4 separate regions of the Homo sapiens genome follow, and regions 2, 3 and 4 are each linked to region 1. Evidence: fine-mapped expression QTL. A gene starts in region 1. Each other region holds a variant in brackets. All regions are shown on one strand. Distances are between the middles of the regions.

Region 1 (5,198 bases):
CAGCCTCCCGTGTAGCTGGGATTACAGGTGCCCACCACCATGCCTGGCTTATTTTTGTATTTTTAGTAGAGACAGGGTTTCACCAGGTTGGCCAGGCTGGTCTGAAACTCCTGACCTCAGGTGATCCATCTGCCTCGGCTTCCCAAATTGCTGGGATTACAGGCATGAGCCACCACGCCCGGCTTCTGTTACAGAATTTAAGACTGACCTAACTACTACAGTTAGGCCTAATACAATGTATTTCTTAACTTCTTAAGGAAAACGAGATTATTGGAATAGTACGTGTATTTCTGGCATAACAGGAAGGAACAAATTGTGGATGAATAAAGAGAACCTTTTGGCAGCAGTGGAGTTTATCCAGCCCTCATTTCTGCCTCAAAGGAGGAATGCAACTCTGTGCCAGAAATATGTGTCTATATTGCAATGCTGTTGATAAAACAGCCTACTACAGTGCTTTGAGGAAAATAGGCATTACGCAGGTATTTGATGACTAAATTAACGTCCAGCTGAACTGAAAGCCCTCATAATGCTACTAGTACTGCTACATACCAGATAATATGACAGTCAAGGCCATGGGAATTATATGGCATTGGCTGCCCTGGTTCCATGGGGAGACTTGAGTGAGCTGGGCGGAGGAGATTTGGCCTAATGGCATTAAGCTCTGATGATACTAGAAGCAGCCCTCAGAAGGAAAAGATTAATGGGCTATCTCTAAACCATCAGAGCAATATCGGAATATGCATGAAAATCATTTCCTACCCCGTGTCAGGGTCAAAAAAAGCACTATCTTTTCTCATATTGGCTTCTGGAGAGTCAGGGCTTCTTGTCCTACGACTGGTTTAGGGCAGGGGAGGAAAACATCGACAAAGGGTTAAGGCTGTTGGGCAGTTTTTAAAATTCCCAGCCCAGCCTAAAGGTGGTGTCTGTCAACGTGTGGTCGGTCCCTGGATCATCAGTAACAGACCAAGAGTGCAGGTGCTTGCTTAAATCCCAGACTCAGGGACCCATCACAAATCTCTAGAATCAAATTTATGGAAGAGGTGCTAGGGTACTGCAACCTTATTACTAAGGAACAATCTTCTGTTTCAGAACTATGGCCTAGGAATTGGGGTTTCAGGTGGGGGCCTTGAGCGGAAGTCCTCTGACTCTGGATTCATCACATCCGACAGACACTACTACAACACTTTGTTTTGAAGACCATTAAAAAACTACCTCAACTTCTCGCACAGCGAACAGGAACAAAACTAAGGACTCTGGGACATATTTTCATAAGCTGGTTAAACAGTTCCTTCACAGCCTTGTTTATCATGTTAGTTTGTTCACTAGATTCTTATTTAAAAATAAATCTCTTCAACTGAGGAATTTTCAGAAAGAATCACAAACTCCAAAATAGAAGAGTTTTCTCATAGTGCAGAACTGGGCTTCTAAACCTGAAGACACTGCTATAAAAAGCAAAGTTTTATTTAAAAGAAAATTGCTGGTTAAGGCTTTCCCCAGCTCTTTTGCACTCAGAGCCACGGATGAAAGCTGGCAATTTGCGGGTGGCAGGGAAGGAAGACGCGGAAACAGGGCTGAAAAGACCGAGCAAAATGCGCTCGGCTCCAGAGTTCAGGAGGAAGTCCCCACCAACTACCTAATTTTTAATGGAGCCAATTAATTGCCAGAAAAACCGCGTCTGCAAATGTTTTGCCAGTCAACACTCCAGGTTCTCGCCATTCCTCTCCGGCGGGATGAACCACCCGAGGCCTGCAAAAAGCAGTCAAGCAGTCAAGTTACACTTCAGCTGTGCCCACCACCTGGGCGCAGCGTCGCCTCCCTCCCCAGGATCACCAGACTCTGCCCTCCGCGCGGAAACAGGAGCCCATCAAGCCGCTGCCCACAGGTTCCTCGCGCCCAGCTCAGCCCCGCGGCCTTTCGACTCGGGGGTCCGAACCGCCGCCGCGTCCGGAGGAGACGCCCCCTCGGCCACAAAGGGAAGACTCGGGCCACGCCCGCCGCCACACTCTCCCTGCCCGGTCTTCGCGCCCGAAACCGTACCGCGCCGCCACTTACTCGTCGCTCCCCGCCGCGCTGTCCCGCTCGGGGCTGGAATCCGCCCGGGAGGCGCGCGCAGGCCGCGCAGCCAGAAGCCGCAGCCGGGACCGGCTGTGCCGCAGCGGCGCGCGCCCCCCGCCCCGGACCGCGCGGCCACGCGGCTGAGTCACCCAGCGCTTCACGTTAAGAGTCCCCTCCGCGCGTGGCACGCCGGGAAGGCCGTGTCTGGGGACCCCGTCCGGGGCCGCACCGTAAATGGGTGTCGCCTTTCCTCCAGTCCACTCTGCACCCAACCTCAGCGGGCGCACTTTTCTGAGTTGCGCATACCCTCTCAATTATTAAAGGTTGCAGACGGAAAAGTTAGTAGTTTTCGGAATTGTAGAATACGCTCGTGCAGCGCCAGGACGGCTAATGCTTACCCGAAAATGTGGAACCCTGATCTCCCCATGCGTGGAGCGAGGTTGGAGGTAGCGTAGTAAGAATACTGGAGTTGCTTAAACGCATTTGCTCGAAAGTCACTACCCTGGATATACATTCTGGCCAAAAGAAAGGGGGAAAAACTCCACATTTTTCTCAAATACTGAGTTTCATGAAGGTACCTGCTATTACAAAGGTGTATTACAAATTTTAAATCAACCGGAAGCAAGTTACTGGGAAAACTGTGTTATGAGTAAAAGATTTCAGCATTCAAAAAACATCTATATATGGTCCATGTCCTATGAACCAAATGCTGGAAAACCCAAAAGGAAGTTCTTATTGTCACGGTTTCTAGTGGCTTTTGTACTTTTAAAAATTACACTAGGCCGGGCTTGGTGGCTCACGCCTGTAATCCTTGCACTTTGGGAGGCCGAGGCGGGCAGATCACCTGAGGTTGGGCATTCCAGACCAGCCTGGCCAACATGATGAAACCCTGTCTCTGCTAAAAATACAAAAATTAGCCGGGCGTGGTGGTGGGCGCCTATAACCCTAGCTGTTTGGGAGGCTGAGGCAGGAGAATCACTTGAACCCAGGAGGCAACTGGGAGGTTGCAGTGAAGTTCCCTCTCAAATATATATATATATGTCTATATATACTAATTAAATATACTGATTATGCAAACTATTTGTAAATTGTTGAAAGCTCTATAAACTAATAATAGCACAAATTTTAAAATTCGAAGTCGATTCTCCTTTTCCTTACAAGAGACTCTCTGAAAACTAATTTGGAATTGGATTAGAATTGGTGTTGAAGTGGAAGGAATGTAAGAAAATAGTTTGACTCAGTAGGTTTCACACGGTTAACGGATACTTGTATAGCAAATTTGTTTTATCAGGGTCAAAAAATTTAATTTTCAAAACTGAAGACATAAATTTTTTCATTATAATTTGGTCTTAGAGGCCTAGAGGGTCATTTTCCATTTCTATTCTCCCTCGTTTATGACTATAAAGTATGCAGGACTGTATTGTGTTTATCTCAACATGGACTAGGCTGTGAGGCTGCACTCGTCATCTGTAAGTCAGTCTCACGTCCCCATGGTGACTCAGCTTCCCTGCTGCTTGCGTCAGTGGCTCTGCCCTCCCAGCACTTCCGGGCTGGCAGAAGAGCTAGATTGGAGAATCCTGTAAGGGCTCTCCTTTGCCTCTGCCAGAAGTGAGTGGCCTTTTCACTTCTGCTGACGTTTCACTGTCCTGAACTAGTCACCAGGCTCAACCTGACTGACTCTAAGAAGGCTGTGAGATATAAATTCCTGTATGCCTGGAGAAAAGGAATATGAAAAAAGATTTAGTAAACACATGGCTATAAACCAATTTGAGTGAGTTATAGGCTCCAAACTTTACAACAGTAGCAGCATAGAGGATTGTTCAAACTAATGCCTTTATTTCCATTTTTATAAAGTACAGTGTTACAGCCTTTGAGTCAAAGAAAAATAAAAAACCTTCTGATATTCCTGCAAAACAGTTCTTGAAACAAATTCTTCCTTTCTGGAAAGATTCCTTCCCGTAGATTTGTATATTGTCTTTCTTTTTTTTTTTTTTTTTCTTTTTGTGGAGAATGGAGTTCTTATTCTGTTGCCCAGGCAGGTCTTGAACTCCTAGGCTCAAGCTATCCTCCTGCTTCTGCCTCCCTAAGTTTGGGGATTACAGGCATGAGCCACTGCACTGGCTGCAGATTTGTGGTATACAAAAATCTGGCCTGAAGTTTGGAGAATCAGGCTAACTACCGAGTCTTATTATTATTTTTTAAACACTTTCATTTTGGAAATTAAAGCATACAGAAAGATATAATAAACACCCGTTATCCATCATCCAAAATAAATAAGTGATAACATGACTTTTAATAGTTAATGGTTCAACTTTTGGCTAAAATTTCATATAATGAACAGCATATCAGACTGGGTACCTTTTTTGGGCAGACATCAAGGAGACGGGATATGAGAAATGTATATTCACAGAAAGCATAGGTGTTTGCTGGTTTTTATCATTTTATTTCTAATTTAATGTAGGTATCTCAAGACCCCGAGTCTCTGATATTTATTTGTATCTGAAACCAAAACCTTCTTCTTTTTTTTTTTTTGAGACAGTGTCTCCCTTTGTTGCTCAGGCTGGGTGATCACCACTCACTGCAGCCTCGATCTTCTGGACTTAATCCCCCTCCCAGGTTCACGCCATTCTCCTGCCTCAGCCTCTCGAGTAGCTGGGACTACAGGCGCCCGCCACTGTGCCCGGCTAATTTTTTGTATTTTTAGTAGAGATGGGGTTTCACCATGTTAGCCAAGATGGTCTCGATCTCCTGACCTCGTGATCCACCCGCCTCGGCATCCCAAAGTGCTGGGATTACAGGCGCAAGCCACCACGCCCGGTCAAGGTTGACTCTTAAGAATAAAAATATTTTTTAAATAATAGCTATTGTAAATTGTCATACAAAAAGCTAATCCTCATTTCTACCGACTAAGCTTATGTAGTAAATATAAAAACAAACCAAAAATCCCTAGATTTTGAACTGTCTCTCTCGAATAATTAAATTTGCTAAATGTTCGTTTTCTTTTGTTTTCTGAGACAGAGTCTTGCCCTGTCACTCAGGCTGGAGTGCAGTGGTGGGATCATGGCTCACTGCAACCTCAACCTCCTGGGCTCAAGTGATCCTCCCACCTCAGCCTCCTGAGTAGCTAGGACTACAGGTGCAGG
Region 2 (5,198 bases), 350 kb before region 1:
TGGTTCAGTTCCCCTGAGTGGAGCCCCAGCCGAAGAACTTGCCCTCCTGGAGGGATGTGCTGGGGTGGACCGACTTCACGGACCTTGATCTGGTTGCCCACTTCACTGGGGAGCTGCACAGTCGGCTGGGATCTCTCACTCCCAGGGAGACCCCAGCCAAGGCATTTAAGGGGAGGTAGCCATGGGAAGGAGCCTGGGCAAGCTGCCAGCGAGGGCCCACCAGCCCTCCTGCCTTCCTCCCTCCCGTGACACATCAGAGTGGCTCAGAGCTGGACTGTCCCGGGACGCTGGGGGTCAGCTGGGTGTGAGGTGGGGTGGCTAGCCCATGAGGTCTTTTGCCCACAGAAGTGGTCTTTGGATGGAAAGTTTGAGAACCACTGGTCTGGAAGCCTCCGGGTGAGTCTGGATGCTTTTCCAATTCTAGGACTTTCACTGCAGGCACTACCCTTCCTGGTGGGCTCTCGGGGAGCAGGGGGTGGGGCAGCTCCAGGCTCGGGGACCCGGTCCCAGGAAGCAGTGCACTAGGCCACACTGCCACAAGGATCTCAGGAGACTCTGTCTTCTCAGGGGCTTTGGGGTGATCTGCTGGATGGTAGGGGGCGGGGGAGGATGGGCAGGGGGCTGATTGAGGGAGTGTCAGGTTTATGGCTCTGTCTTTGTCTGGCTTTCCATTCTTTCATCTTCTCCTCTCCCAGTGGTGTCCCAGGAAAGAAATGTGGCACCATCATCCTGTCCGCTGAGGAGCTCAGCAACTGTAGGGTGAGTGGCAGAGGACTCCAGCACAGGACGTGGTTGGGGTGGGGGTGATGGAGTGCAGGCTGGCCTCCCTGAGCCCCTGGAGGGAACCGAGGGTAGACAGGGCTCCTGATGCTGACCTGGCTGTCATAGAATTTTGCAACATCAGAGCTAGTGGGTGTTTTCCCTTTTTATAGCTGAGCAGACTGAGGCCCGGAGAGGAGAAGGAGCTCACCCACAGTCAGCAGCAGAGCCCAGCTGAGCCCCGTCCCCTAGCTCCCATGCCAGGGCTCCCTCCCCTCCCCATCACAGCCACCACTCACGTGTCCTTGAGCCGAGACTGCCTTGGCACCAACACTGTGGCAGCAAAGACCTTTTCAGTCTTGAAGGAAGCCTGGGTGCTTGACATTTAGCTGTCATTTTTCACTTTCAGCTCTGGAGTAGGGTGACACCCTGCATGGGGCGGATGGAGTGTGTCTGTGCGTACGCATGTGTTGGGAAGAAGTCTGCAGTCCCAGGCAGCCCTTGGTCTTGCTTTTACTGTAGGACTGTGGGGGAGCAGGAGATGGGGACAGCTGAGCACACAAAGAAGGGGCTCAGGGGACCTCATAATTAATAATAATGATAAAGTATCATAATGGTGATGGTCAGTATTTGTCAAGTAATAGGCACTTTACATAAGTTATCGCTGCTCTTGACAATCATCCTAAGAGGCAGGTACTAAAATGTTACTCCCATTCTATGGATGAGGAAATTGAGGCTCAGAGAGGCAAAGTCACCTGCTCAAGGATGACAAACAGCAGAGCCATGACTCTACTCCAGGTCAGCTTGATTCTAAGATCCGGGCTCAGCCCCAAAAGCACCACCATCTAACCTAAGAGTGGCTATAAAAGTGGGAAAGTGGTGGGGCTTGGAGAGAAGAGGAGGCTGGGACAGATGCAGGGAGAGGCAGGGTGCAAGTGTAAACAAAGCCTGGGCTACCCTGGGAACACAGCTTCCCATGGAGCTGGGAGGGATGACCAGGAGAAACAAGATTTTCCTACCTTCCTGGGAGGTCAGTGCTACGGATCAGCTATCAATCAATATTTACCCTACTAGAAATTTAAACAGAATTTTAATGTATGTATTAATTCCTTTAAAAATAATTTAATTCCTTTAAAAATAACAATAGTTGAACCCATTATGGGTCAACATAAATAACGCATTTTTTTTGGGGCCGGGCACGGTGGCTCACGCCTGTAATCCCAGCACTTTGGGAGGCCGAGGCGGGCGGATCACGAGGTCAGGAGTTTGAGACCAGCCTGGCCAGCATGGTGAAACCCCGTCTCTACTAAAAACACAAAAAATTAGTTGGGCCCGGCAGGCAGAGGCTGCAGTGAGCTGAGATTGGAATCTCGGCTCCTCTGCACTCCAGCCTGGGCGACAGAGCGAGACTCCATCTCAAAAAATAAATAAATAAAATAAGACATATTTTGAAAAACAACAATAACTCCCAATAATCATTTAATGAGAAGAGTGGCCTTGTTTTACATTTTTGCAAATCTCTTTAACGTCTGACTTAATGGAAGACATCTGGATTCTCATAGCTGCTTCTGTAGTCAATCTGTTGTGAAATCCCTGTCAGATAACCTCTGGAAAACTCTTCATCTTAGCATTATTATGTAAATAGTTTTGACCCCACGGATCCCTCGGGGTTCCTGGTCCATACTTTGAGAGCTGCTGGTATAGAGGTATAACAGTGTTAGAGAACATTAATTGAGTCATTATTTTGGGCCATACACTGTGGTAAGTGGTTTACATGTATTGACTTGCTTACCTAACATATTATAATATATAATGTAGTATGTAGTATGATGTGTTATAACATCTGATGAATTATGGTCCTCATTAATTTTCCTCACTTTTATAGATAAGGAAACTGAAGCACAGAGAGGTTAATTGATCGGTCCAAGGTCACACAGCCACTGAGTAGAAGAGATTTGAAACTTGGCAGTTTGGTTCTAGAGCCAAGGTCTTTAACCACTGGACTGTGGTGTTACAAACTCTGTTTCCAAGGACTTCCAGTGGAAGAATAAGACACACGAACACAGAATCGATAGTACAGGGCAGTCTAGAGATGACCAAAAAAATTCATATGTGACTGCTCACCCGGGTTGCTTATCTGTTAATCTCAGTGGATCTGAAGGCACTTGACAGCGGGAATGAACCCCACCCAGTGTGCACCCCCAGGGCAGGACTCGGGG[T/C]GCAGTAGGCATTCCCGAGGACCCATCACGAATATGTGACTGAATGATTAGGAAGCACAGACCGAGTGTTCAGCACCAGGTCATGGACAAAACACACGTGTCTGCTGAGGATCTGGATGCCACTGGAGTTCAGACAAGGGAGAGAATTCGGTTGCCCTGTGGAACAGAGCTGTTGCAGCTCCCAGAGCCTCCGTTTTCCACCTGCAGCTTGGCGCTGATAGGGTTGCTGTGAGGATTAAAGGAGTTCATGAATGTGAGTGTGTCTAACAGATGCCTAGGAAAGGGTGCATCTGAATTCCTTGAACCTAAATTCAGTGTTTCCCCAAGCTTCTAGCCCAGCTGGTGACTTTCTTCCTAGTTTATAACCAAATAAAGTCACATACATGAAAGCGCTTTGGAAATTCTAACGCTCTAGACAATGCTGGTGGCCGTTACTGGTCTAGCATTCCAGGGGTTGGTAAGCAGTCTTAGGTTGAATACCTATCAGGTGTTAAACCCTTCCTCTTCCTCCTTCTTCCCCAGTCCTCCCTACTCCTTCACCCAGGGATAGCAGCAGTTTTCTTGATTTAAGCTGTTCCAGCACCAGGGGTCTATGTCGGGGGCAGGGAGCGCCCTCCCTTCCTCCTGAGATTGTCAGCTCCTTTTCTTCTGGGGCATCTTTAGCTGAGTTCTGTCTCTCCCTAGAATCCTTGCAAGGAAAAGAGACTAATTCCCAGCATCTGGCTGAATTAAAATAATTACATCTGAACAGCTTTGCTTCGTCTTTCCAGCTCAGCATTCAGTGGGAGGATCAAAGGAAGAGGGTGGGGTCTGAGAGATGATTTTTCACCAGAGCAGGGCTTCCTGCTCAAATGAATACATTTTGCCGAAGTAGACAAACCCTCTCTTCATCCATGGGGATGACGTGGGCGGGTGGGAACCAGCAAAGGATGACAGTGGACTCCAGTGTGTCACCAGCATAGTTTGACAGGTTATAGAAAAGCCTTGTTCATCTGGAATTTAAATGTCAAAGAAGTTCCCACAATCAGAATTTGATCCAAATACTATCGAATGGTACTTGATGTTGACAGTCATGAGGTTGGTCTCCCGAAGGGCCTTCTGAATCACCCAAGGTTCAATTCTGCTCAGCAGTAAAACGATTGTTACTGCCTGTAATACAGCAGTAAAACGATTGTTACTGCCTGTAATACTGGCCAACATTGGTTTACCGAGACCCTCTTATTTAGTCTTATTTGATTCTGACTGCAAGGCTGGGGGGCTGGGTGGGTGTGAGTAACCCTGTTTTACGGATGCAGAGAAGTTAGTGGTCTGCCTAAGATTGCTGGGATTCTAGCTCAGGCCTTGGAACTCCTAATCCTCAGTCTTTCCCTCACCCCTGGAGCCTCGAGCCCTCACGGTACAGGGAACAGTCACCGACCTTCTGTCCCTTGTGGGGCTACTGCCCTCAGCAGGCAGGGTGGCTTTGAGCAGTGGAGGTTGGGGTTCACGCCTATAATCCCAGCACTTTGCGAGGCTGAGCAAGGCAGGAGAATAGCTTGAGCTCAGGAGTTCGAGACCAGCCTGGACATCATAGTGAGACCCCCCCCCGACCATCTCTACAAAAAAATTTTTTTAAATTAGCAGGGTGTGGTGGTGCACGCCTGTGGTCCCAGCTAATCAGGAGGCTGGGGTAGGAGGGTCACTTGAGCTTGGGAGGTCAAAGCTGCAGTGAACCATGATTGCACCAGTGCACTGAAGCCTGGGGAACAGAGTGAGACCCTGTCAAAAAAAAAAAAAAAAGAAAAGGTAGGGGTTGTTGTCAATACAGAGGGTTGGATAGCTCTTTGCCCTCCACTTCCCAGCCCCTTGGTTCCCCCTAGAGACCTGTCAGCCACCCAGACCTGCCTTGCTCTGGAGTCAGGACTTCCCGGCTCAGGATAGTACGTCTTTACCACCTCCTAGTCAGGTCCTTCCACCTGACTGGCCGTCCCAGCCAGGATGGTGGCGGTGGTCATGGAGGAGGCAGTGATGGAGGAAGAAGGGTGTGCCTCATCTCTCTCCTGCAAAGGGAGTTATAACTTCACACCATAACTGCCCCGGGGGCCTCCCCACCCCTTAGGTGTCACCAGCGTGCTCATGTATTCTTTCATTTCAGTTCAGGAAATATGCTTTGACTGAGTCCCTGCTGTCCCAGAATTTTTAATTTAGTATGAGAGATGGAAATGCCAACCGGCAATCACA
Region 3 (5,198 bases), 54 kb after region 1:
TTGGTGGGCCCTTTGCCTGTGGAATGTATTTCACTCATTCTCTCCTGCACGCTGTTAGGCAGTTCTTTCACCTGCATGCTTCTTCTTTTACCTTTTTGTCTACCTCATAGTCCCTCTCTCCCCTCCTTTAAAAGAATTATAAATATTAGGAAAGCTTGTTGTTATAAATTAAAAGTTTACATATGTATCTTGAGTTCTTCATAGGGGAAGTGTTATTTTAAAAAATTCTAAAAATGAAATAAATATTGTTATTTTATTGAGCATGAAACCCCTGTGCATATTTCTTTTTTGAAGGAGGAACCCCACAGCAGGGTCTAGCCACTTATTCCTGCTCATATTGGTTTGTAGACTTTGATTATACATAGCATTGACTTTGTCCTTCCAAAGGGAAATGTCTCCATTTTTTAGTCTGTCGCAGGCAGTGCATATTTATTTCTATTATTACTTAGGTTCTGGCTGACTAGCCCTAAAACTGTCTTTTTAAAATTTATTTTGAATAGGTTTTTATTTATATGATTCAAAAATCAAAACAAGGCCAGGCACAGTGGCTCACGCCTGTAATCCCAGCACTTTGGGAGGCCGAGGTGGGCAGATCACGAGGTCAAGAGATTGAGACCATTGTGGCCAGCATGGTGAAACCCTGTCTCTACTAAAAATACAAAAATTAGGTGGGTGTGGTAGCACGCACCTGTAGTCCCAGCTACTCGGGAGGCTGAGGCAGGAGAATCGCTTGAACCCAGGAGGCGGAGGTTGCAGTGAGCCGAGATCATGCCACTGCACTCCAGCCTGGCGACAGAGCAAGACCCCATCTCAGAAAAAAAAAAAAAAATCACAACCATGTGAAAAGGTTTACAACAAAAACCCTTTCTATTATTTTCTACTCTAAATTCCAGTTATGCTTATTAGTTTTTATGTATCCTTCCAGAGGTTCTTTGTATAAATACTAATTAATACATACATACATACATACACACACACACACACACACACGTATATTTACATACAAGAGGTAGCATGTAATACACACTGTTTTGTACCTTGATTTTTTTACTTAGCGTGGGTGTTCAGGCACTGTTCTGGGTGTTTTATAAAAGTTAACTTACTTATTCATAACAACCTTATGGGATAGGTATTATTATTTGCTCTTTTTTACTGTTAAAAAATTGAGGCAGTAGTTAGTAGAGGGAGGCAGTAGAGTGGTTAACACAAACTTGCTCAAGGGCACACAGCCAGTAAATGACATGGCTGGGATTCCAAACCAGGCAGGTGTTCCTAAGTCTAGATTATTATCCACTATGCCATACTGCCTCTTGGAGAGCTTGCCATGATCCACAGAGAACTCCATAAAGTGTTGTATTGTATTCAGTTAAATGAATGTACATAATTTGGCTGGGTGTGGTGGCTCACATCTGTAATCCCAGTGATTTGGGAGCTGAGGTGGGAGATCACTGGAGCCCAGGAGTTGGAGGTTAAGGTGGGCTTTGATGGCACCACTGCACTCCAGCCTGGGCGACAGAGTGAGACCCTGTCTCTAAAAAAAAAAAAAAAATAGAAAATTAAAATTAAAAGAAATGAATGTGCATTAGTTTATCAAGCCTCCTTTTGTGGACACCTGAGTTATTTCTCATACTTTGCTATTATAAACCATGATTAAATAAGTAACTATGTATACTTTGGATATTTGTTGAATAAATTTCTGGTAGGCAGATTGCTGGGTGAAAGGAAAATGCATTTGTAAATTTGCCAGACCCCGCTGTGGGGTTGCACCACTTTACCTCAGCTTTTCCAGCAGATTATGTTAGTAAACTTTTAAATTTTTGCCAAATTTATGGGTAAAAATTTCTATCTCAGAATAACTTTAATTTGCACATTTAAAATAGTGAGTTTGTCTGAGCATCTTTTTCTTTCTCTGCTGCCCAGGCTGGAGTGCAGTGGCACAGTCACGGCTCACTGCAGCCTCCAACTCTCAGGCTCAAGCGATCTTCCATCCTCAGCCTCCTGAATAGCTGGGGCTACAGGTGTAGCCCCA[C/A]CATGCCCGGCTAATTTTTTAAATTTTCAGTAAAGACAGGATCTCACCATGTTGTTCAGACTGGTGTCCAACTCCTGGGCTCAAGCGATCCTCCCACCTTGGCATCCCAAAGTGCTGGGATTACAGGCATGAGCCACTGCACCCTGGGCATCTTTTTGTATATTCAGGAGCCATTTGGCATTTCCTTTTATGTGGACTGTTTATTCATATCCTTTGCTCATTTTTTTTTCCTACTGGGTTTCTGGCCTTGTTCTTACTGGTTTCTTATTGCTGGCCTAGAGCTTGTGATGATATACCAGTGCTAAGCCTACTTTGTAACAGCGTCTACACCCTCAGATTTTCAGCAGAAGGTTGTTAATGCTTTTCTTTCCTTTTCTTCGGTGTCTTCTGGTTTGTTTTTATGCGCACAACCTCTCTTGAGACAGGGGGAGCTGAGACAGATGGAAAGGGTGATGGGTGGGCAGGCACCAACCCCGGAGCACCCAGAGGCCCAGGAAAAGGTGTCAGTCGGGATCTCCGAGTAGTCTGGCCCTGCTCAGGAGAGCACAGCCGCTCTGATGGTGGTGCGACGGTTCCGGACCTGTGGGGCCTCAGCGGGGCCAAACGGCAGGCCGAGACAGTATCGGGGCCGGGAAGGTCACTCACCCCTAAAGGGAGAGGCACCATGCGAGGCCCCTTCCTATCCTATGTGCGGAGACTCACAGGGTCCTTCCTGGTCCTGGGCTCGGGACCGTGAGAGACGCAGTTGGTTCCGAGTTCAGGACTAGGGGTCCCCTTAGATCCTCAGATCCTGCAGAATCCCGGCTCTGCCCCAGTGGGAGCCAAGGCCAGGTCGCCAGAGGGACTGTCCGCCGGCTGGAGGCTGTGTGCAGGACCCACGCCTCCCAGGCTAGCGAGCGGGCAGCGCCCCGGTGCTGCGCTCCCACGGGGCCGGCCCCTGCCCTGCCCTGCCCTGCTCCTAGCCCGCAGCGGCGCAAGTGGAACCGCATCCCGCTCTTTCGTTTTCGTTTCCCGGAAGGATAGCGATTACCGGAGCGCCTCGCGCGCCTGCCCGCCTGCGGAGGACCCGGGCGCACACGCCTTGGCGCTTCTCGAAAGAGATTTCCTCCCACGCGACCTTCCAGTTCTCGGAGCCAGGTTAGGGGTTTGGCGGAGGAGGACTGCGGGGCGCGGGCCTAGGGCCCCAGCAGCCACAGCCAGGGGAGCGCTCAAGACAGAAAGCCGGTGGCTTCCTCACCTCCACCTGTAATGCAGGTAAGAGCCTGGCGGCTGAACACGCAGCGCGCACGCAGAGCCACCTGCTCCCGCATCCTTTCCTCACCACCTAGATTTCCAAACCTATTTTATCAGACCTTTTACCTGGCGGGAATCTCTCTTTCCAACACATTCCTAAACCTCACATCCATCCCTCACTCACTTCCCCTTCCACCTCCAGACGCGGGTCACCGCCCCTGACTCTCTCGGTGTCATACACAGCTCTGAAGGCATCACGCACAGCCCCTGCGGGCCCTTTCCGCAGCCCCCTTACCACTGGTCGCCCCTACACCAACCAGATGTGAGGTCTTTGGAAGTTCGTGCGCCAGCCAGGTCCTCACAGCTGGTGAACGCATTCTCGCAGGGAGCCCCTCTTTAGCAGCCTCTCCCCACTCGCCGGTTTTCTAGGTGCCTCGAGACTGCCCCCAGAGCTGGCGCCCCGTCCCACTCCAAGGCCTTTCTCCACTCCCCTCTCGCCAGGACCCATACCCATTATCAGACCCTTCCCTGGCCTCCATGCTGAAACCCAGGAGTCTGATCCTCAGCAGCTCCGTGGCTGGCGTTTCCCAGGCAGTTACAGCCTCGGAATTCCCCGCTCCTCTTACTTGGATGAGGACAGAGGAGTAGACAAAGAGCCTCCTGCAAGCCTCCTTGGCAAGTCCGAGGCAAGTCCTGTGCCTTGAGCCCCTTCTCCAGCAAGGCAAGCTTCCCTTTCCCCACCAGGAGGCAACCCCTGAGGTCTGATTACTTGGGAAACAGCACCAAAGGGGGACCGGCTGGAAATGAAGTGAGAACGACCCGGAAAGGTGTTGAATCCCCTTTCGCAGCAGCCAAGGCTTCTGGAGTTTGCTTTGCTGGCTCCGATCCAAATTCTCTCTCGGCAGATATCTCTCCTCGGATCCCAAGAGATGAATGTAAAGCTTTTGACAATCCTAGAGTGAAAAATGACTTGATGGAGCTGGTTTCACTTTTCCTTTCCGTGCTGTGGCAGCCTGTGGCTGGGCATGAGCCCGAAGGAGCTTCCTATTCCTACAAAATCCTGCCACTTTCTTCATTTTCTCATCTGAATGGATGAACCCCGTCATCTCTGGGGGCCATGCTGATTGTTGAATTGTAAAGATACAGGCTTCCCGTGGTGAGACCTTAGGATTCAGAAATGTATCCTTATCCTTTCTTTTTCTCTTTTGAAAATAGTGTTTGTTTGTTCTGAGACGGAGTCTTGCTCTCTTGCCCAGGCTGGAGTGCAGTGGCGTGATCTTGGCTCACTCCAACTTCCGCTTCCCGGGTTCAAGTGATTCTCCTGCCTCAGCCTCCTGAGTAGCTGGGATTACAGGCGCCGGTCACCACGCACGGCTAATTTTTGTATTTTTCGTAGAGATAATGTTTCACTATGTTGGTCAGGCTGGTCTCAAACTCCTGACCTCAAGTAATCCACCCGCCCCAGACTCCCAAAGTGTTGAGATTATAGGTGTGAGCCACCGCACCTGGTCTATTTGTTTATTTCTGATTTAAGGTCTTTTGATCCTGGCCCCTCAGGTTTCCTGTGTTGTCCTCACCAGGGATCCAGTGAGGATTCCTAGGCTTTCAGATTTCAATCATACAAGTCTTGGCAGGGGATCCCTCTTGGAGTTAGGCACATGCATGGAAAGCTTGAATTGGAAGGATGTCATTTATTGTGTCCACTGGGTACAAAATGTTGATGGTACTGAGTTGAAGATATACATGGTTCCTACCTTTAAGGTTGATGCAGTCTTCTGGTGGAGATAAACACTCTTTCCCTTCCAAAAAAATTCTTAAGACATTTAAAGATGGCTGAGCCTTCACCAAGATGCTCTTCTTTGACTGTCCTGGTTTTTCTCTCTCTAGGAGGGAGAATTGGCTATTTCTCCTATAAGCCCTGTGGCAGCCATGCCTC
Region 4 (5,000 bases), 160 kb before region 1:
ACACTTCCGCTGGGCAGGTTTAGAGGTTTATTATCAGTCTGTGCATAACTAAAAGTTCAAAGCAAATTCAATTTTGCTTAAGGGAACATTGTAAAGTAACAATTCTTGGTATTACATGCCTCGTATGATCCATTTCAAACCATAGAGAATTACACCTTTGTGTCACTGTTTCAAGAGACAAACAGATTTGAACAGCTAAAACATCTTAAAAATGCACCAAGCTTATGAAGTCTCAAACAAAACTTGAATTTTCTGTACATACTCCTGTCAAATGAAGTAATTTCCTGTACACCACTTCTCTTGCAAACTGTCTTCTATTTCCTTTCATTTGACCTAGATCGACTAAAAAAAAAAAAAAAAAAAGAAAACAAAACATTACATCTGTAACTTGGTGACACTTTAGTGACATATCGAAATAGAACTTTAAGGTAAAAAATTTATGGCTTAGAAGACAGGCCTTAGCATACTATGTATGCAAAGTCTTAAATACAAGTTATCAAAGATCTTACCTACGAGACCTAGAGAAGGATCGGGACGGCTTGTGATTTCTCTCCCGAGACAGCGATCTCTCTCTTCTCCTATCTCTAGAAAGGGACCTAAACAAGCAAAAAAACATTAGGACCAATGAGGTATGATAAAATTATACATAAATATTTTCTTGATCTGGCATGGTGACTCATGCCAATAATTCCAATATTTTGGGAGGCAGAGGCAGGAGGCTCACTTGAAGCCAAGAGTTTGAGAACAGATTGGACAACAAAGTGAGATCCCATCTCCACAAAAAATAAATTAGCCAGGTATGGCAGTACTTGCCTGTAGTCCAAGCTACTCAGGAGGCTGAAGAGGGAGGATCACTCCAAGGCCAGGAGTTAAAGGCTACAGTGAGCTATAATCACACCACTGCACTCCAGCCTGGGTGACAGATCCTTTTTTAAAAAATTAAATACTTTCTAAAAAGCCTTTGAAAACTCAAAGAAAGCTGACTCATCCTTACAACTTGATTCACTATTAAAGCCAAGGTTTATTCCCATTAACTAAGCCACCTGGAAAAGTTTAGGAATAGCAGAAACACTGCCATTTCTAAGAACGTAGCCAAAAAAGGTAGTCATTTACCTGCTCCGGCTGCGAGAGAAGCTTCTCCTTCTTGGAGATCTAAAAGCAGAAACAGGAAAATTAGGCTCATCATCAATTAGTATTTATGGCGTGAGGCATTTCCCAACTTTTCAATCTCACTGTTGGGCCCAGTGAATGTGCCGAAGAACTGGCACCCATCGTCCAAAAAAAAAAAAAAAAAAAAAAAAAGAAAAAAAAGAAAAGAAAAAAAAGGCACAGAAGGATTAAGAAACAAAAAGCTCAAGTGAAAAGCAGGTATTCCAACCATGGATTCACTTTAACAAAGAATGCTTCACAGCAGATCTGTCCAATGCAAAACTTCATGTCAAACTAACTTCACTACCCAAACACCACACCAAAATATAGTCCCACAAGTAGTTCCAAAAACAGTACCATAAACCAGTATTTGGAACCCATGCAAACCTGTAAGTCCATGACAAGACTTAGGTACCAGGTGGATAGTGTAATTTTGTGAAAACGCGGTAGGTGTAAATATTGATGCCATTAAGTGCTACATTAGAACTGCATTTGTGATCGTCACATTTAAGAGTGTGTTTAGGCTTACCAAAATTACCTTAGCTTGGCCCACACTTCAACCCCAAAATTTTAAATTTTGAAACTGTTAGTAAAACCATTTAAAGGTGATAGGATTCAACAAATTTTTGCCAGAAAAGCTAATCTGTTAGAGATATTAAAATTTTTAGTTTGGCATCTTGCACATGCAAATAAGTTTCACTTGAAGGCCTAGTTACATTACGAGTTCCCTATCACCCTTAAAAGTTTTTCAAGCAATATATATGTACGTTACCATTCAATTATGCACAGCCAGCCTTTGATCCAGAAAAAAGAATTACTTTAAGCCGCTTACTCCTTATTTTAACCAGCAGTAAACTGTATAAGCAGGAAAAACTTACTAGTTTTGGGTTTCAACAAGCTAGAAATGGTGAGGTGAGGCTGCCGGACTGACGGCCAGGAAGAATTTGCTGAAAAGGTTTTGCCAGATGTTGCGTTGGATTTAGTTGGTTGGCGAAGGGGGTGTTGTGGATTTTTCCTGCTTTTTTGTTAGCCGAAGGCTGCTGCTGTAGTTGTTGTGAAGACATTTGGTAAATAAACAGCTGAGCTGATTGGCCAGGAATGTGTGGGCGGTCGAGGTGGCTGCTGCCGATTTGGTTAAGGTTGGAGAGAAGGCTGAGAGAAAACAGCATGCTCGGGAACCAAAGGGCGGTGCAACCTGACGACTGGCCAGCCTGGGTCATGTGAAACGACACCAGCCAAGCTGAATGGGGCGCGCTGGTCACATGACGCTGAAAGGGCTAGTTGACTGGCTAATGCAGATTCAGAGGGTGGTGAGAAGAGACATGATGGTGACTCTGTAACGGGGTTCATTTTTATTAATAGATGGACCAAAAAGCACAAAAAAAATGAAAAACAAGCCATCAGTACAACCATCTATTAGCTAACAAATACTCTTTATTATGATGGGCAACAGTGTGCTGTTGTTTTTCAAAATAGCAAAAGGGGCAAGATTTTGAACTCCTGTCTCCTAGAAGGACTCCACTCACCTGTAAGAGGTAAATTTAGTCCTATAGAAACTATTTTGGAGGTCTGAGGAGATGTGGAGTTAGCACCCAGACAATACTGCCTGGTCCAAGAATGATGCCATTTTCAATTATAAAAAAACTGAATTTTCTCCTATTTGGGATTGAAGAACAGATGACTGGGATTACTTCTTTTTTAGCCCCCTTTATTGGTCAGTGACTT[AAGTT/T]AGTCTCAGAATGATTTCTACTTTACCAGTTGTAACATTAAAACAGCTGCCTGTTTGATAAATATTACAATTGTGCTAATAGTAGAAAACACAAATTTGTGAAGAGCTAGAGTTGAATGTAATGTTTGTCATTATGGAGCCAAGAAATGGAAAAAGGCCTAAACTGAAGTATAAGGGAAGATTTGGAAAGATGCAACTAGAAAGATGAACTAGAAGACAGATCCAAGATAGAAGTTACTGACTACCAACATGAACAGTGACCTAAAGACAAAAGCCAACACTCAGCACAACTCACATACCCCAAATTACACCCAACAAATGTTTCACAGAAACCTCCGATTCTTCCAAAGTTTAAAACCCACCAACAAACTTAAGAGAAATACCTGCTCCTACTAGCTACTCCATTACACCAATACCTCTTAACAAGCTTTCTCTCAAGTACCTGCGACGAGGTGGAGGACTCCTCCTACGATAATCATCTCGAGGGCGACGACCCCAAGAGGGAGGTGGGCCACGATTTCTACTTCTTTTTTCACCATTCGACAGTTCCACTCTTACACGGCAGCCACATAGTGTTCTGAGGGGGCAAAGATATTAAACTTAAAACAGCCTGACTTTCTGACATGCGTATTAAAGCCAAAAGTACTCTCAGTTGGCTATTCTGCAAAGAACACACCTAAGTGTCTGTGCAATTTAACATCAAATTTCTAGCTCCCTTATTTTTACTAATATAAAATGAGCTTTGGCCAGGCACGGTGGTACACGCCTGTAATCCCAACACTTTATGAGGCCGAGGCAGGCGGATCACAAGGTCAAGAGTTCGACACTATCTTGGCCAACGTGGTGAAACCCTCGCTCTACTAAAAATACAAAAAATAGCCAGGTGTGGTGGTACATGCCTGTAATCCCAGCTACTCAGGCGGCTGAGGCAGGAGAATCACTTGAACCCAGTAGGCAGAGGTTACAACGAGCCAAGATCACACCATTGCACTCCAGCCTGGGGGACAGAGCAAGACTCTGTCTTGAAAAATAAAATAAGCTTGTTTCCCAGTTTCAAATTAAAATTTCAATTAATTTCAAATTAAACAAATAGGATTTTCTAAAGTACCAATTCACAAGGAAGTCAAATTCTATTTTATCACCTAATTGTTAGAGCCAGTCTGATTACTGAGCTCAATGTTAATTTGTTAACAGTTGCAATTTAAGTGTGAAGATCCATTTATCCTTGAAAAACAAGTTCTCCTGTATCTTCATTATGATTTCTTCCCTTGAAGTCCCTGCACTTATTTCAGTTATTTACCAGGCTGTATTTATTGGTCTCCCCCTGCCCCACTCCAAGTAAAAAATCAGTTCAAGACAAGACAGAACCATTTTGGCCATTTTACAGCACCCTCTCCCCTCAACAGTCAGCACAGAAGAAATTATAGCTGTGGCCAGGTGAGGTGGCTCATGCCTGTAATCCCAGCACTCAGAGAGGCTGAGGCAGGAGGATGGCTTGAGCCCAGGAGCTTGAGGCCAGCCTGGGCAACACAGACTGTCGTCTGTATTATTTTTTAAATAATAAATATACATTTTTTTAAAAAAAGAAATTATAGCTCACAGTAGTAAAAAAAAAAAAAAAAGACCATTATTCCTCACCCTTAATACAACCAGTCATTAAATTTAGATAAGCTATCATATTTGAAGAGTGACTGGGAAGAGGTGGGCCCTGGAAAACTTTACTACAACCTGCTTGAATTGACCAACCTTTCATGCAGCTTTACAGTGAACACTCAGCTCCTTTTTCCCATTATACTTCCAAATATGAGGAAAGGGGGGTGGGGGCATGGAGGTCAATACTCAGGCCTTACTCAGCCAGCTAACAGGACACTATTAACACAAAGGGAAATAGTAAGTGATTCACTTTCTGGAGTATTTCAAACACATAAAAGTAAAGGTACAACCAACCCATGTAACCATTTTGTAAACAATTTTTTAAACAAGGATCAGTTCACAACTACTCTTAAAAATATTTGATCCTGGCTGGGCACAGTGGCTCCCACCTGTAATTCCAGCACTTTGGGAGGTCAAGGCGGTCAGATCACCTGGGGTCAGGAGTTCGAGACCAGCCTGGCCAACATGG

Evidence for each region. PIP is the estimated chance that this variant, and not a neighbour inherited with it, causes the effect. A credible set is the group of variants that fine-mapping cannot tell apart.
Region 2: its variant is the best candidate, but not a certain one, in a credible set for the expression of KCTD20 in blood mononuclear cells (TOPMed, PIP 0.55).
Region 3: its variant is the best candidate, but not a certain one, in a credible set for the expression of KCTD20 in subcutaneous fat (GTEx, PIP 0.80).
Region 4: its variant is the best candidate, but not a certain one, in a credible set for the expression of KCTD20 in whole blood (TOPMed, PIP 0.81).

The regions. Positions count from the first base shown.
Region 1 is chr6:36,439,966-36,445,163 of GRCh38, reverse strand. KCTD20 (potassium channel tetramerization domain containing 20) reads right to left here and starts at 2,164. Exons shown (of 8, transcript NM_173562.5): 1 at 2,053-2,164. PXT1 (peroxisomal testis enriched protein 1) reads left to right here and starts at 2,310. Exons shown (of 5, transcript NM_152990.4): 1 at 2,310-2,629. RefSeq lists enhancers at 1,047-1,106, 1,712-1,811, 3,296-3,843 and silencers at 1,972-2,261, 3,420-3,489.
Region 2 is chr6:36,787,594-36,792,791 of GRCh38, reverse strand. It overlaps CPNE5 (copine 5), which reads left to right. Exons shown (of 21, transcript NM_020939.2): 8 at 696-759. Among named protein-coding and RNA genes, the nearest start is that of CPNE5, 49 kb to the left of the region's middle. The variant T/C (reference allele first, on the strand shown) is at 2,979.
Region 3 is chr6:36,385,621-36,390,818 of GRCh38, reverse strand. ETV7 (ETS variant transcription factor 7) reads left to right here and starts at 3,150. Exons shown (of 8, transcript NM_016135.4): 1 at 3,150-3,283; 2 at 5,150-5,198. The coding sequence starts at 3,278. PXT1 (peroxisomal testis enriched protein 1) reads left to right here. Exons shown (of 5, transcript NM_152990.4): 5 at 1-268. ETV7-AS1 (ETV7 and PTX1 antisense RNA 1) reads right to left here and starts at 4,199. Exons shown (of 2, transcript XR_926758.3): 1 at 3,889-4,199. RefSeq lists a silencer at 2,920-3,129 and an enhancer at 3,256-4,079. The variant C/A (reference allele first, on the strand shown) is at 2,030.
Region 4 is chr6:36,597,304-36,602,303 of GRCh38, reverse strand. It overlaps SRSF3 (serine and arginine rich splicing factor 3), which reads right to left. Exons shown (of 6, transcript NM_003017.5): 3 at 3,321-3,455; 4 at 1,114-1,152; 5 at 510-596; 6 at 1-342. The coding sequence ends at 315. Among named protein-coding and RNA genes, the nearest start is that of SRSF3, 5.4 kb to the right of the region's middle. RefSeq lists enhancers at 1,855-2,354, 2,355-2,856, 4,638-5,000. The variant AAGTT/T (reference allele first, on the strand shown) is at 2,875.